Regions from separate parts of the Homo sapiens genome. Here region 2 is linked to region 1. The links come from fine-mapping of genetic effects on gene expression. Tissue or cell type: cerebellum. Region 1 holds a variant in brackets; the other region holds the start of a gene. All regions are shown on one strand. Distances are between the middles of the regions.

What was found. PIP is the estimated chance that this variant, and not a neighbour inherited with it, causes the effect.
Region 2: it holds the start of RETREG1, and the variant in region 1 is fine-mapped to the expression of RETREG1 in cerebellum (GTEx, PIP 0.92).

The regions. Positions count from the first base shown.
Region 1 is chr5:16,571,299-16,579,480 of GRCh38, reverse strand. It overlaps RETREG1 (reticulophagy regulator 1), which reads left to right. Exons shown (of 9, transcript NM_001034850.3): 2 at 7,379-7,485. Among named protein-coding and RNA genes, the nearest start is that of RETREG1-AS1, 41 kb to the left of the region's middle. RefSeq lists an enhancer at 3,794-4,358. The variant G/C (reference allele first, on the strand shown) is at 3,900.
Region 2 is chr5:16,613,688-16,621,869 of GRCh38, reverse strand. RETREG1 (reticulophagy regulator 1) reads left to right here and starts at 4,873. Exons shown (of 9, transcript NM_001034850.3): 1 at 4,873-5,218. The coding sequence starts at 4,899. It overlaps RETREG1-AS1 (RETREG1 antisense RNA 1), which reads right to left and starts at 5,944. Exons shown (of 4, transcript NR_109946.1): 1 at 5,384-5,944; 2 at 1-92. RefSeq lists a silencer at 4,630-5,119.

The DNA of each region.
Region 1 (8,182 bases):
AAAAGAAAAGGCTGTAAATTGGTGCCAGTCCTTCCAGCTCTTTTCATGTGGGAGCAGGCAGATTAAGAGGCAGACACTTGTGTCCAGCAGCCGTTTAGCAGAATGGCAAGAGCTGGCTTAGAGCCAGGCTGCCTGGATTCATGTCCTGGTCCTGCGTCTCCTTTGTCTTGGGGCCTTGAGCAAGTTTCTGAGCCTCTTTGCTCTTCTGTAAAATAGGTTTAATGACGATCCCTTCCTGAAGGGATACAGGATTCAATGAGTGACTCCATATAAAGCTCTTAGAACAGTCCTGTGCTCACTGAAAATCAGCTGTGCTATTTATCCTGCATTTGGTTCTGGAATTCATAACTTGTGCCTCAGAGTGGAGGAGACAAAGGTTAAGGGTAACCTCTCTAATTCAGGCTCTAGTCTTGTGGCTCTCTTGCGGTTCCCTTTGGGTACCCTGTTCCCCAGCCTGGAATGCATTGGTCTCTTTTCTACCTGGCCAAATCAGATGTCTTTCGAAGTCAAAGTTTAGATGCCACCTTCTCTAGAGCTTTCTCTGGCTGCTTTATGTAGTTACTGGCTCTGTTTTCTGCCCCCACAGCATCCTGAATAGCACTTTGGTTAAACACAGTTGTTTACCTGTCTGCTTTCCTGGCTTTGCAGGGGGAAGGCTGGGATTTAGTCACCAGTGTTTTCCCAGCAGCTAGCCCAGTGTGTGACAGATGCTGTGAATGGAATGAAAACAGAATTCCCTGCCTCCCCCAGTAATAATAGGATGCTGCCGGAAATTGAATGCTGCAAGAAATGTTGAGCTTCCTGGCATGAGATCTATTTAAGTAGAGGTGGTTGATTGCAGCTGAGGGGATTTGTGGATCAGATGAAAGTAAATCAGATGACCTCTGAGCTCCTTCCAGCTCTGTGATTCTGTGACAGTCCTTCTCTGAGTGATGCCACAGCGTGCCAGTGTCAGGATCGCCCACGCCCAGCAGATGGGGATTGTTTTTTGATGTCCTTACAGGCCAGTTTCCATGTAAAGATCGGTTAGAAACAATTTTGTTCAATTACTTTTTAAAGAAAAATTTTGATTTTATAAAATTACAAACTTAAAACTCATTTTTCTTTGAGCTTTCCATTTTAGCTAACAAAACATTATTTTGTTTATAAATCTAGCAAATTGTAACCGTGTTCAAGAGAGTCTGACTGTTTCATTAAATAATAAATGATTGCTTTATTAAGTGATTAGTTTTGTTAGAAAGTTGAGTTATATTCCTTTGAACATTTTAAACTGCATTTGTAAATGTTATATTTTCTATATCCCTTTGAAGTACTTTATTATCAGAATAACTAAGGTTGTGCCAAAGACCTGAGAGGCGACCTGAATAAGACGGGGTAGCTGGAGCATCAGTAAGGATAACTCTGCAGTGACTGAAACACGTCAAATATGTTCAAACTCTTGAGTTCATAATAACAGGAAAAAAAGGAATAAGAAAACGTATGAGTCTGTTTTCACGCTGCTGATAAAGACATACTCGACACTCGGTAATTTATAAAGAAAAAGAGGCTTCATGGACTCACAGTTCCACGTGGCTGAGGAGGCCTCACAATCATGGTGGAAGGTGAAAGACACGTCTTACATCGTGGCAGGCAAGAGAGAATGAGAGCTAAGCAAAAGGGGTTTCCCCTGACAAAACCATCAGATCTCGTGAGACTTACTCACTCCCACGAGAACAGTATGGGAGAAACCGCCCCTGTGATTCAATTGTCTCCCATTGGGTCCCTCCCACAACACATGAGAATTAGGAGAGCTACAATTCAAGATGAGATCTGGGTGGGGACACAGCCAAACCATATCAGTTACCTTTAGAGGACACTAGGGAACTGCTTCACTATCTTGAAAAAACCGGTAAAATAAAGGGAAGAACTCAAGAACTGATGCTGCCTTTCCGACGAGCTCCACCTCTCAGTGTAATTGGACATTGATGAGGGGAAGTTTCTCGTTATAACTGTGATCCAGCTATTACTCGAAGCAGGAGTGAAGGGCCGTCACCCCTTGTAGCCTCTGAGGAATCAGCCACTAGACAGGGATTGTCTGTGGCTGCCAATAGTGCAAGTGTAGCCACCAAGACATCCAGACAGTCTGCGTGTCTCTTGATGGAAACAGGCACTACCACCTATCTTTGGGTTTTAGAGGGAAAAAAAAAAAAAACAAACCTAAGTCTTATCAAGCCTCTAGATCCACGTGCCAACTTATAGGCTACACAAAAGATCAAGGAAAATGTTAAACCAAATCACAAGGATACAACAAACGATTCCCAGAAGCTGGAAAACTTTATTGGAGAAATGAACCTGACAGCAAGGGACCTATAAGGGTCCAGGACACTTAAAATCCACATCTGCCAATTTCAGCAGATGACTTTCTCAGATCCTGTTTCAGTCTGTGTGTGTGTGTGTGTGTGTGCGTGCACACAAAAATGAGTGGGGAAATATGAACCTTGATGGGATATTCGATGACATTAAGAATTAAAGTAATTTTTTAGATGTGATGGTGGTATTGTTATTTGGTTAAAAATATCTTGTTTTTGGCCAGGCGCGGTGGCTCCTGCCTATAATCCCAGGACTTTGGGAGGTGGAGGCGGGGGGATCACAAGGTTAAGAGATCGAGACCATCCTGGCCAACATGGTGAAACCCCATCTCTACTAAAGATACAAACATTGGCCGGGCGCGGTGGCTCGTGCCTGTAATCCTAGCACTTCGGGAGGCCGAGGCAGGTGGATCACCTGAGGTCAGGAGTTCGAGACCAGCCTCAACATGGAGAGACCCCGTCTCTACTAAAAATACAAAATTAGCCGGGCGTGTTGGTACATGCCTGTAATCCCAGCTACTCGGGAGGCTGAGGCAGGGGAATTGCTTGAACCTGGGAGGCGGAGGTTGCGGTGAGCCGAGATCGTGCCATTGCACTCCAGCCTGGGCAACAAGAGCGAAACTCCGTCTCAAAAAATAAAAAAATAAATAAATAAAAAATAAAGATACAAAAACTAGCTGGGCATGGTGGCGTGCACCTGTAGTCTCAGCTACTCAGGAGGCTGAGGCAGGAGAATTGCTTGAACCCAGGAGGTGGAGGTTGCACTGAGCCAAGATTGCGCCACTGCCCTCCAGCCTGGCGACAGAGCAAGACTCCATCTCAAAAAAAAAAAAAAAAAGAAAAAGAAAAAATCTTGTTTTTGAAGATAAATGGCAGTATTTGCAGATTAAATTACATGATGTTTGGGATTTGCTTCAAATAATTTCGGGGGAAGGATGAGCTTAGTGGGTGGGAATATGGAAGAAACAAGATTACCCATGAATGGAGAATTGTTGAAACCGGGTTTATTACACTCTGGCCTCTCTTTTTGTGTACGTTTGAAGTTTACCAAAACAAAAACTTTTTAAAAATTCCTTCATCTAATAACACAAACCCTCCCAAATATTAGGTACTACTTGAAAAATGAATAAACTAAAGAATAAACTCATGTTTGTAAGATTTTAAATTTCCAATCACAAGTCTAAATTACTCAGCTACATATTTTGAAGTGGAGCCCTGAGACAAATCATCTTAAACATTATAAATAATTAAAGTACCAAAAGTGCTCAGATTTTTCTAAATACAGATTATTCTCTTAGGGTTTCGTTTCTCAAACATGTTTATATGACACTAACCCACCAAAGAATCAAATATGTAGTCCCATACAGTTTGGCATTACCTTGCTAAGCAATTGCTGGGCTTGTCTTCTCAGTGGACCGAGGATTCTCGATGACCAACAAGACCTTGGCCAATATGCCAACTGGGCCCTTGCCCAGGACAGAATAGACAGACATCCCGAGTGCTCTTTGGAGTTGCTGTGGCAATGCCTTCCAAATGAAGTCTGGCAGCCAG[G/C]CCTGTGGGTTGCAGTCCTGGCATTACCTAATTTTCTTTTTTATTATTCTTGGAAGTTTGTAACTTCCACTAAGAGAATAACTAATGGCCTTTGTGCTTTGGTTGGTTTTGCATTTCATTGGTTTTGAAAAGATGCTTAAATGGCTTCCTGGCCAGCTCCAAAGACTTTTAAACTTGAGGGAGCTTTCTGTCTGTGCTAGGGCTTTGCCTGACCCTGCAAAGAAAGCCATTCTAAGGAAGCATGCTGTTCGAACATTTGCAGGTTCTGTCTCATGCCATGTGAGCCGAGCTGCGCATTACAGCTCATTAGTGGGCCCTGAGTCAGGCGAGTGATTCACAGTCAGCATTTAAACGCGTAATAGAATTGAATGGAAAAAGTTGAACTGCATTATGAATTGTAAGGAAAATATTTTTCAAAACTTGTTTTTCATTTATATGTATGTAAATATAAATGAGTTTCTTATTGTGGGTCACTATGAAATCTGCCACTTCAACGTGAGGTCGGGAAAACTGGGAGCACCCAGCACATGAACAAGAGCAAGAATGAATCCTGAATTGAGAGTGAGGAGGCTGGCCCCAAACCAAGCAAACACCAGAATGCAACCTTGCTTAAAACAAACAAGAGCTACAAAAATAGAGCAAGTGGTGGCTCCTTAGGGGAGGGACAAATTTAGTGGAGGAACAAATGATTGTTGCTAAAGACATGGACTGCGGCATTTTATTCTGTAACTTGTGTCTTTTATGTCTGTTCCATCTTTCTATGCTCCTAATTCACCACTCCCTTTTGGTAGCACAGTGCTTGGTGCAATTAGGCAATCAATAAATATTTATTAGATGCAAATACTAGTAATCAAACCACCTGTTTCAGGGGGCCTGGGAGGAGGAGCCTGGGGCCTGGGAATCTACATTTTAACAAGTTTTCCAGGCAGCCAACCTGGCAGCAGTTGCAGACTGTTATTTAAGAAACACTGACCTAGTCCACCTGCTCATTTTGCTGGCCCAGGCCATACAAACAGCATTTGAACCAGTGAGAGCTTGGGTTGGCCACCTTCTGGTGGAGGGCTCTACCCACCACGTCACCCAGCATCTCATGTTGATCTGCTTTTCACCAAACATACTGCATGACCTTCTAGTAGGTGGTCTGGACTCCATGCTTCCTCCCTACCCCGTCACATCCTTCCTGTTGCCCTCAGACATTTCCCTAAATCACCCATCATTTCACTTCCCTGCTCTATACCTTTGACTTTCTCTCTATTGTTTGTAGCATAAGACTTACTGCGCATTCTGCTTGACACAGTCTTCCCTGATCCTATCTCCCCAATCTTGTCTCTCTGCCAGTCTCTGAACCCTCTTCTTTTGCTTTCTCTTCCTGCTGAGGCACCCCAGATTACTTGATGTGCCACAGGTACCTCACCCTTTCCTGAGTCTGATCTTTGGTTCATGTTGTATTCTCTAATTGGAGGAGCCTCTATTTTCATCTGAGTTGCATCCACCTCCCCAGACCCAGTTAAGTGCCGCTTCTATAAAAACTTCCCAGCCGGGCGTTGTGGCTTGTGCCTGTAATCCCAGCACTTTGGGAGGCCAAGGCCGGCGGATCACCTGAAGTCAGGAGTTTGAGACCAGCCTGGCCAACACGGTGAAACCCTGTCTGTACTAAAAATACAAATAAATTAGCTGGGCGTGGTGGCAGACACCTATATTTCCAGCTACTTGGGCGGCTGAGGCAGGAGAATTGCTTGAACCTGAGAGGAGAAGGTTGCAGTGAGCCAAGATCGTGCCACTGCACTCCAGCCTGGGTGGCAAGAGTGAAACTCCATCTCAAAAAAAAAAAAAAAAAAACAAAAAACAAACAAACCCAAAAAACCAATTAAAAAAAAAAAACCATTCCCTGCTTTGGAGCGAATCCATCCTCCCTCTCCCTGTGCCTCTCCTTGTTCTCTGCACATTTCTGTGACAACACCTAAGCCTTGCCTGCCTTGGACTTTGTGAGCTTGGCCTGTGTTTGTCTGATGAGAAAGCAAGTTTGCAGAAGGCAGTATTCGTGTGTTCTTTACTTCTCTTTATAGCCTTGCAAACAGTCTTAAACATTTATTAAATTAATTTTTCTATGAGTTCTGATTCTATCAAAGTTAATATTCATTGGCAGCTTGGCCAATTAACTTGTGTAAACAGACCTCTAATCTCATGTGAAGGCTCAACGCTCTTTGTGATTTCTTTACAAACACACCCAAAAAAAGCACTGCAGGGTTTGTGTGCTGCTCACGGTCAATAATTTTTAGTTTGTTTCCCTGCAGAGAGGAGGTAGACAGGTAGCAAAAGGGGAGCATGATCTTAAAGCGAAAGAGTTAGCAAAGTGGATCTTCAATAACTGCTTTTTTTTTTTTTTTTTTTTTTTTTTTTTGAGACAGAATCTCACTCTCTCACCAGGCTGGAGTGCAGTGGTGCGATCTTGGCTCACTGCAACCTCCGCCTCCCAGGTTCAAGTGATTCTCCTGCTTCAGACTCGGAGTAGCTGGGACTGCAGGCGCACGCCACCATGCCTGGCTAACTTTTGTATTTTTAGTAGAGACGGGGTTTCACCATGTTGGCCAGGATGGTCTCAATCTCTTGACCTTGTGATCCGCCTGCCTCGGCCTCCCAAAATGCTGGGATTACAGGTGTGAGCCACCACGCCCGGCCAATAACTGCTGTTTTTAAGAGACGAGGGTGGGAGTAGTTAGAGAAGTGAATAGGGCGTAAATGAAAACACAAGACAGGGTGGTGACTAAAGGGCCTCTGTAGTGCAGCCCATCCGTGTCTGTTAGAGAGCCCTGCAGCTTGGCTCTGCAGCCCATCCTAACTCTGTTTCAGGTCACTTCCATTCTCCATCGGCTATTGGAGAAGCCCAGCACTAGGAGCAATATTTTGGTCTATGCCTGAGATAGCAAATCCTCTGCCCGAAATTGGAGGGTAGAGCAGAAAGCTTAGCACAAAAGCGCGCAGGCTCAGACACTTTCATTTTGCTGACTTTGATGCCTATTAAATAACTTTCATGCAGTCACACTGGGGTGATTTTGGAAAGTGAAATCATGCCAGGCACAGTGGCTCACGCCTGTAATCCTAGCACTTTGGGAGGCCGAGGTGGGTGGATCGCTTGAGGACAGGAGTTCGTGATGAGCCTGGCCAACATGGCGAAACCCTGTCTCTACTAAAAATACAAAAATGAGCTTGGCGTGGTGGCTCATGCCTATAATCCCAGCTACTTGCGAAGCTGAGGCAGGAGAATCACTTGAACCAGGGAGGCAGAGGTTGCAGTGAGCCGAGGTAGTGCCACTGCACTCCAGCCTGGGCAACAGAGCGAGACTCTGTCTCAAAAAAAAAAAAAAAAAGTGAAATCATTATTGAATACCTTTTTTGTTTCTGTGGCAGGAAGTAAACCCAATTTTGAAAAGGTTAAAAATCCTCAAATTGAAATACTGATTTGTGTTTCGCTGTTGCAGGTTCCTTGCATTGACTCCATGGAGAGTATATCACCTGATTTCCGTCATGATACTTGGGCGTGTTATTATGCAAATAATAAAGGATATGGTTTTGTCTAGAACAAGAGGTAAGAATACTCAGATTTTATTTATATGGTATTTAATTTTCTAGACCCTGCATTTCTGATCTTTGTGTAGGCATATTAGCCAATTAGTCCTTTGAACAGAAGCAAATATAGGCATTGACTTAGCTGTTTTCAATACGATAATTTATTGAGGTGGTGCTGTCTTTGTAGCTACTGCTTGTAGGTAAAAGGTTTGTGTGTGCTGGTTTTTCTCTTGGTCTTAAGAGCTATTTTAAATACCACGTTGGTATTTAAGTAGGCTGCAGTGAGGATAACAGTTAAATATTTATTACATCTCACATGATGAAACTGGGCCACTGGAAAATGGACTAGTTTATGTAAAAATTTTCTCTGCCTCAATGAAGAAAAACAACTAATTCAGGGTTTAAAAGCAAGCGATGGTTAAATAATTTTAAAAAATGAGTTGATAATAAAAAATGAATAAATTTTAACATTAAGTTTAAAAGCAAGAGCTTGGTTTAAAAAAAAAAAAAATTGGCCTGAGGTGCTTTTTGGGTAATTTAACTGTATTACAAATCTGACTCAAGTCTTTTGCATACTTGGAGGGGCCTCTTGTACCACTGTTCGAGCTAGTTTTTGTAAACTTGGGAAAAGCCCTCCTGAGAATAATTAAGCCCCATAAACTTAAATGTAATGAGATAGATTTTATCAGAAATAGCCACCAGGAGGTTACAAAGAG
Region 2 (8,182 bases), 42 kb before region 1:
TGGCATCTCCAGAGATATCCAAGTGCAGATCAATTTTTAAAAATGAAACTTGTCAGCCTCCCTTCCAGACTGGCTCCTTCTCCTCCCTCATTCTAGAGAATGACAAGGGAAAAGTCTCTGAGAGTGCCTTCCCTCTGCCAGGCTTTATATCCTCCATGGTCTGGAGATACCTTTCTAAAACACAGGCTAGCCCCTCTGTGTCCTGCTGCAAGCCCACCCATGGCTCCCTGTTGCTCTCAGGACAAAGCAGAAGCTTCTAGCATCATACAGGAGGAGCCCCACTGTGAGTAGCCTCCTGCTCCTCCCACCCCATCCTCCAGCTTAGATCTCCTCCAGGTTTCCAACCAGGGCCAGGCTGGCTCCTCTCCTGCTTCCAGACTGTGCACACCATGCTTCCCCATTCCCTTTGCCCAGCGCCTTCTTCAGGGTCTTTATCCATTGTCTATACTCTAAGCACCATGAGAGAAATAAGCAGTCCTGTTCATCTTACCAGAAGCCCACAGTCAGTCTTTCAGGAATGGCTGATGACTAGTGAATGAAGCAATGAAATAATGAGTGAATGATACGCAAGTACAATGATGCAGAACCAGGACCATCAAAGGGGGTGGGGGGAAGAGGTTGCAGCAAGGACCCGACAGTGCTTTGTCTGCTGGTTCAGATTCCTGTTGGGAAGGGGTTGGAAGTTAATGTCCTGCAGTCACCCCTGTGGATCATAGGTGTGCGTGTGTTTGTGTGTGTACCTGGGGATAGACAGGTAGGCTTCCTTGGGGGATATACTCATGTTGTCATGTGACCTCCGTTCTTTTCAGTTAACCATTTTGAAGCCTTAAAAAAAAAACTTCTTTTAGGTATTAGGGAGCAATACCCCAACTGATATCTGGGTGGCCAACATCTTGGCCACCATCTTTCTGGTAAGCACATCCCTTATGGAATGCTTGTCAAACACAGACTATGCTAGTTTGAATATTTCCGTCTGTATATGCACAACAGACATTCAACATAAGTAGAAATAGTGAATTCCTTCTGTGAGCCAGGCACTGGGCTGGGCCTTGGAAGCCAGGTTAGAGACCCGGGAGATGATCTTCCTTCCTTTCCAATTGCTCTGTGCCTGCTGATGCTGTATGATACTCTTATTTATCTGTGCTTAGAGTGAACTATCCAGGTTTTCTTAGTGAGAAGAAAATTATGGAAACTTAGGAATAAGGAGCAGAGGATATAGCAAGGGGAGGAGGGTAGAATTAGTTTAATAAAAGTACCAACACAAAAAAAATTCTATCTGCAGGCTAATAAACGATACAACATATACACAAGTGTATTAGTTCATTCTCATGCTGCTATGAGGAAACACTTGAGAGTGGGTAATTTATAAAGAAAAGAGGTTTAATTGACTCACAGTTCCGCATGGCTGGGAAGGTCTCAGGAAACTTACAATCACGGCGGAAGGCATCTCTTCACAGGGTGGCAGGAGAGAGAATGAGTGCTGAGTGAAGGGAGAAGCCCCCTTATAAAGCCATCAGATCTTGCAAGCACTCAATATCACGAGAACAGCATGGGGGAAACCGCACCCATGATTCAATTACCTACACCTGGTCCCACCCTTGACACGTGGGGATTATTACAATTCAAGGTGAGATGTGGGTGGGGACACAGAGCCAAACCATATCAACGAGCCTCCTTTTGTTTAAGGAATCATGGAGCTACTGTAAGATTCTAATATATAATATTGTAGAGAAAAGAAATTTCCCCAAAATATTATGACTAGGGGGCTTTTCCCCATCATTCTAAGTCTTAGCTTGATTTTGCCCTAGGAGACTTCCTATAGTGGGAATTAATTATTCATAATTTTTCCTCTCCTATTACAAGCTTTCCACATACTCTTAGATGAGAAAAGTGAGTGGCCTCTGTTAGAGAGTTCTTATGTGCATTTGGACTTTCTTTACTGGAGCTGTCTCATTTTCTAAACTCTCATTCAGTAGCTAGAACTTTTTTTTTTCTCAGACACGTTTCCAGTTTCCTTTTCTCAGATATATATTGTCAAATCATCTAGCTCACTAGTGTTAATCACTCTGTTCCTAATATATAGCAATAAAATTTCAGAAGAGAATCTTAGTAAGATTACTTGCAGGAGTTCAAGAATGTGGCGTGTTCTTAAAACTAGGGGACAAGGTTGATTTCAACCATTGTTAGCATTATGTTTCTGTAATCTTAGCCCTGAATAAATTACTCAAGCATCACAAAGATCATTAGACAAACAACAAAACAACAACAAAATCCCACCCAGCAGCACCATTTGTATGTCTATGCCAGTGTCTACTTCTGTCATACAGTTTGTAAGTATTAGAGGTCGGAGGTGAAAAGGAAAGGTTAATTAGCCCAGCCTTTTATGCAAAACAGGTTGCATAGCATTTTCTCCATAGTAATTTTGAGAGAGAGAGAAAGGATAGACTTTACAACACATAGCTGTGGGGAAGGAGGTTTATTATTAAACAGAGATAATAAATAAGTGTTGGAAACCACACACAGCAACTGGAGCTTAGCTTTTATGTGTCTTGGTTGCCAGCAGCTTTTACTACTTCAACAGATCCTGACAACAATAATTAGAATTCAAGGGAAGCAGGAGGAAGGTGATTAATCTTGCAAACCCATTTCTGGTAGCACATCAGCACTGGTCTGGGGAACGGGGACACCTGGTTCTTCCTCTCTCCTGCCCCATGTTCTCCACACTGGCTGCAGCACACATCTGTCTAGTGACAGATTTTAGAATAGCAAACCCTGGGCTGTATCAAGCGCCAAACAAAGGCCAAATGACACAATAAAAGCATCATTTATCTTTCAAAAACTTCTCCGCTACTGCCAAGAGGGAGGACCCACACCTGGGAAAAGATTGTCTCTCTTATATGGAAGAAACCTGAATTGTTTCCACGTTGCTTTTTCCTTGACACCCAGGCCACTTTCCATCGGGTTGTCAGGATACTCCTAAGAAGGGGAGTCGGAAATGCCAGATGTTCTGTATCACCTTTAGTTAAAAACCAAGCCTCCTGTTACTAGAGACCATTCAATGTCCACTATTCCCTTTGGTGAGTTACTTAAGGAACTGTGCGTCTCCACCTGCAACCCCATGCCTCCTCTCCTGTTGAATTCCCAACAGCAGTTATTGCCCCTGTCCCCAATCCCCACACTAATGGGGGCCCTACAATTTAGGGCAGAGGCCATTTATTACAAAACGCTCTTGAAACCTGATCCCTCCACTCCTCCCCTAATTTTGGATGCACAGTTTAAGTAAGGAATCTCTTAGCACTTAGCGAAGGCTTCTTCGCTGTGGCAGATATCACAATTGTAACTGGGCCCTCATCAGACTGGGAGCTTCCTGTGGGTGGAAGCTGCATCCACAGAGCTTAGCAATGCTTTGTGTACTCGGTAGGTGCTCAGTAAGCCTTTGCCTGGGCTCTGGGAATATAACTCCTTTGAAGTACAACATACAAGCAGTAAAGTGCAGACACCTGCAGTGAATGTACAGATCAATGGATTCCACGTGTGTATACACAGAGGTTTACAATGGCCACCCAGAGGAGCGTTACAGAACATTCCCCTAGAGACTCCCTTGACGCAGGGAATTTAATTGCCCTCCCTTCCATCCTGTGCAGGCAGGCTGGTTGCCAGTAAAGGGATATGAGATGCCCTGATGCATCCGCAGACAGAACCCTTAGTATGGGGGGGAAGGACCTGTCATTCTAGAGTAAAAGTAAGACCAGGAAGATTAAAGAAGACAAAAATTTAAAAATGCAAATGGTGAAAAGCATAAACAACTATTTTCCTCTCTCCCCACACTCACCCAGAAGCACCGGGGCCAAAGAGAGGGCATGGGAGGTCTCAGGATCCCCTGCCGCCCCACCACTGCCCTGATGCCCGCTTGTGACGCAGAGACCGGAGTGGCTCTGAAATTACTGTCTTCAAAGCAGGCCAAACCTTGCTTGACACGTGCAAAGTTCCAATCTCTTGCTTCTCAGCTCCCCGCACGCGCGGGCCAACGTGCACTTCTGAGCCAGATCACCTAGCCACAAGGAGGGGGAGAGAGGGGGAGATAGGAGGAGAGAGGGGAAGATAGGGGGAGAGACGGGGGAGAGAGAGGGAGAGGCAGAGAGAGAGAGAGAGACAGAGAAGAGAAAGGAAGCACCTGAGACAGAGAGAAAGAAGAGAGAGAAAGGAAGCAGCTTCCCCCAACGCTGCGGCCTTGTGTTTCCTCCCGTGTCAAACGAGAGGGCCCCAAATTGACCCCAAATGTTTTTTCTTCCTTTCTCAATCCAACATTTATACCAGCACGTTATTTCCAGGATGCCCAGGACCTCTGCTATGGTTGTGCTGCTGTCCCTGCAAAGGCGCTGGGGATGGCCGAGGTGGGGGATGTCTCTGGGGGCTGAAATACGCTGCCAGGGGAAGGGGCGCCCCGATACCACCCTCAGTGGCTGCTGGTTGGGCGACCGGTGGCCCTGGCTTGAGAAAGTGAAAATGTCCAATCTATTTTGCCTGGAGCCTTGGGTCTCTTTTGGATACGGAACCGAGCAGCAGTCCTCCACTTCGCCCTCTCCCGCCGCTGCAAGGGAAAAGGTCGTTTTCCTCGAGTCCCGGAGAGGCCCTCCAGGAACCCAGAGCCCCCCGGGGACACCGCCCAGCTCCCGGCGCCCGGCCCCGCCCCTGCGCGAACTCGGCCGCACCCACTTTCCCGGGCGGCTCCCCCTCCGTGGCCTGTGGCGTCACAAGGCCCCCAGCCGCCTGTGCCCCGCGGTGCGCGCCCCGCTCCGGGACCTGCCGCCACCGCCGCCCCGCCCTCGGCGGCACCCACACCCAGGCGCGCCCGCGCGCGCGCCCGGCCCCGTCCCTGTCTGGAAGCACAGCTGAAGATGGCGAGCCCGGCGCCTCCGGAGCACGCCGAGGAGGGATGCCCGGCTCCTGCCGCCGAGGAGCAGGCGCCGCCGTCGCCGCCACCGCCCCAGGCATCCCCCGCAGAGCGGCAGCAGCAGGAGGAGGAAGCGCAGGAAGCTGGGGCGGCGGAGGGCGCGGGGTTGCAGGTGGAGGAGGCCGCGGGCCGGGCGGCGGCCGCGGTAACCTGGCTGCTCGGGGAGCCGGTGCTGTGGCTGGGCTGCCGCGCCGACGAGCTGCTGAGCTGGAAGAGGCCGCTGCGGAGCCTGCTCGGCTTCGTCGCTGCCAACCTGCTGTTCTGGTGAGAGCTTGGGCAAGGTGGGGGCGCTGAGGAGGGCAGGTGACCTTGGGGCGCCCGGGGCCCCGGGGACCCAGTGCAGGGGGAGCCCGCGGGACACTGCGGAGGAAGAATTGTCAGCCCTGCCCCACTTTCTCGGCCACCTGTCTCGAACAGGTAGACACTCACCGCAACTTTCCTCCGGACGCACGTCCCTGTGAGCAGTTGTCGTTCTCCGTGTGCGGATCCAGCCTCAGATGCGAGGTGGTCGGCCGACCCTCAGGCACCTGCACCTACAGGTGTTCCCATCGTGCTTGAAAACTTCGCCCCTGCTTTCTAAAACTCTGAGGTCTTGACCTGCTCGCCCAAGCTTGCCGGAGCAAACGTGCTTGAACGTGTCTTGGTTCTTGCAGCCCCAGCAGGCATATCTGGACCAGATTAGGTACCCGTTCAAAACGGTGCCGCATTCATCAGTCACCTGAGATGGGCCCTGAATGATTTGTTTTTTCCTTCCCCTGGAGCGTTAGGTTTACTGTGTTTACTCCCTGATGAGAAAACGGGAGGCAAACAAGCAGGTGGAGTATGCCCAGCACCCACCCCCGGGTGTGCACAGTGTGGAAAACAGGCATATTTTTAGGTGAAGTACAGGGAGAACACACGGGAATGCTCAGCCCCTGAGCAACAGGTTTGTCTCTCCAAAAAGCGCTCTTCAGAAAGGCCAGGGAAATGTCTGTCTCCTTCGTTGAAAGTGGTGTCCTGTCATCCGTTACCACGCTATTGAGGGCGGAGAAAAACCTTCTTTGTTTGCTAAGTGTCCTCATAACAAACATGACCTACACAGTGCAGAATAATCAGACTCCGGTAACAGATACCTTGTTACAGGACAGAGATTTCTGAACCTTAAAGTTGAGAAATAAATAAATTGCACAAAATAGACAGCCTGTCATTTTCTAGGTTAACTTGAGCAAGATGAATATTTTCCTCAGATCTCTGCTAGTCCTGGTGTTTTCTCTTAAAACTAGCTGTATCTTGTCGGAGGTCCCTGAAAGTGAATTAACTTTGGATCTCTTAGGTATCTGTGTTTGGAATAGAGTTTATTCCAAATCTATCTTATTATGGAGTGAATGCGAGCACTCAAATAAGAAGGACATATTGTCTTATGCTAGATTGGGCAATAGTCTAATAGTCTTAGGGCTGTGTCTCACTAATGTTTACGATGTTTTTAACATTTTATTTCTTTTTCTTTTCTTTCTTTCTTTCTTTTTTTTTTTTTTTTGAGATGGAGTCTCACTCTGTCGCCCAGGCTGGAGTGCAGTGGCGCGATCTCGGCTCGCTGCAAGCTCTGCCTCCCGGGTTCACGCCATTCTCCTGCCTCAGCCTCCCGAGTAGCTGGGACTACAGGCGCCCGCCACCACGCCTGGCCAGTTTTTTGTATTTTTTTTAGTAGAGACGGGGTTTCACCGTGTTAGCCAGGATGGTCTCGATCTCCTGACCTCGTGATCCGTCCGCCTCGGCCTCCCAAAGTGCTGGGATTACAAGCGTGAGCTACTGCGCCCGGCCTTAACATTTTATTTCTTAATTTTAAATTTTATTTCTTTAAAAAACTAATACAGTCTCACAGTGCAAAAGTTTAAAGGTACAAAAGGGTAAGCATTTTGAAAATCTCTTTCTCATCCCAGTCCCTGGCCGCCCAGTTTCCTCACGGAGGCCAGCAATGTTGCTAGTTTCCTGTGTCTCTTTCCAGATAGTGCACATTTCAGCAAATACACCATATTCTATGCAAATTGTGGAATAACATATGAGCTCTTCCTTTTCCTAGTATTTCTTGGTGATTGCTTCCTTGTTCTTTTTCAGCTGCTTCAGAATTCTATTGTAAGGATGTCTCAAATTACTTAACCTGTCTCCTACTGAGGCAGTAATGTTTCCAAGCTTTTGCTATTTCAGCATTATAGCTAATGACCCTGTACATGCATCATTTTGCATATATGCAAGTATTTTAGAGAACTTCCCAGAAGTGGAATTGCTGGGTCAGAGGGCATGTGCACTTGTAATTTTGATGGCTGTCACCATATTGCATGCAGCTCCTTAGGGTTCTAACAATTTATACTCCCACCAGCAATGTGTATGACTGCCTGCTTTGCCACACTCTTGCGAAGAATATTTTATGAAACTTTTTGATCCTGCAAATCTGATAGGTGAAAAAGACTATCCCAAAATGATTTTATTTTGCAGTTCTCTGTGATTGAGCATTTTATCTTATGTTTAAGAACTACCACATTTACCATTTATCAGCATTGTTTGTTTATAAATAACCTTTGTCTATTTTTTCAAGTAGGCCAGTGTTCTTTTCCTTATTGATTTATAGGAGCTGTTTTTATATTAAAGACTTTAGCCTAATTTCTGTAACATGAGTTGCAAACTTTTTTCTATGATGTTTTCTTTAATGACACCTATTGAAAATAATGTTTTTGCATAAAATAATTGAAAGGCATATTTGATAGTATCCAGGGGTGTTTTCTTCCATCCATTTTATTTATACTGACGGAGAGGAAAACATTGGCCAGCCATTCAGCCTAGATACAGCCTTCTCCTTATCTGTTTTATTTCATCTCCTGTTTGTGGCATCTGCATTCCATGCATGTATTTTCTTTGACAAAAATGACTGTCCTGTTCTTTAAGTTCAGAATTACTTGTTGCTTTTGCATTATAATTCATTGGAATTTATGACCCATTTATTAATGTCATTAAAATTTTGTTTTTTTTTCCCTTTTATTTGTTGCTCTGGGGGTTAAAATGATTTTCAAGGACATTACGTTTTCTTTAAATAATGTATTTCTTCTCAAATGATCTTAAATTATGTGATACTCTAACCTTCTGTGTCTTGGGAACTCTAAAGCACTGTATTTTCTATGAGAAAAAAAGATCAATTTTAAAACTGTGGGGAACCCAACCAAATCTGTCTTAAGCAATGGGATGTTGTTTTCACTT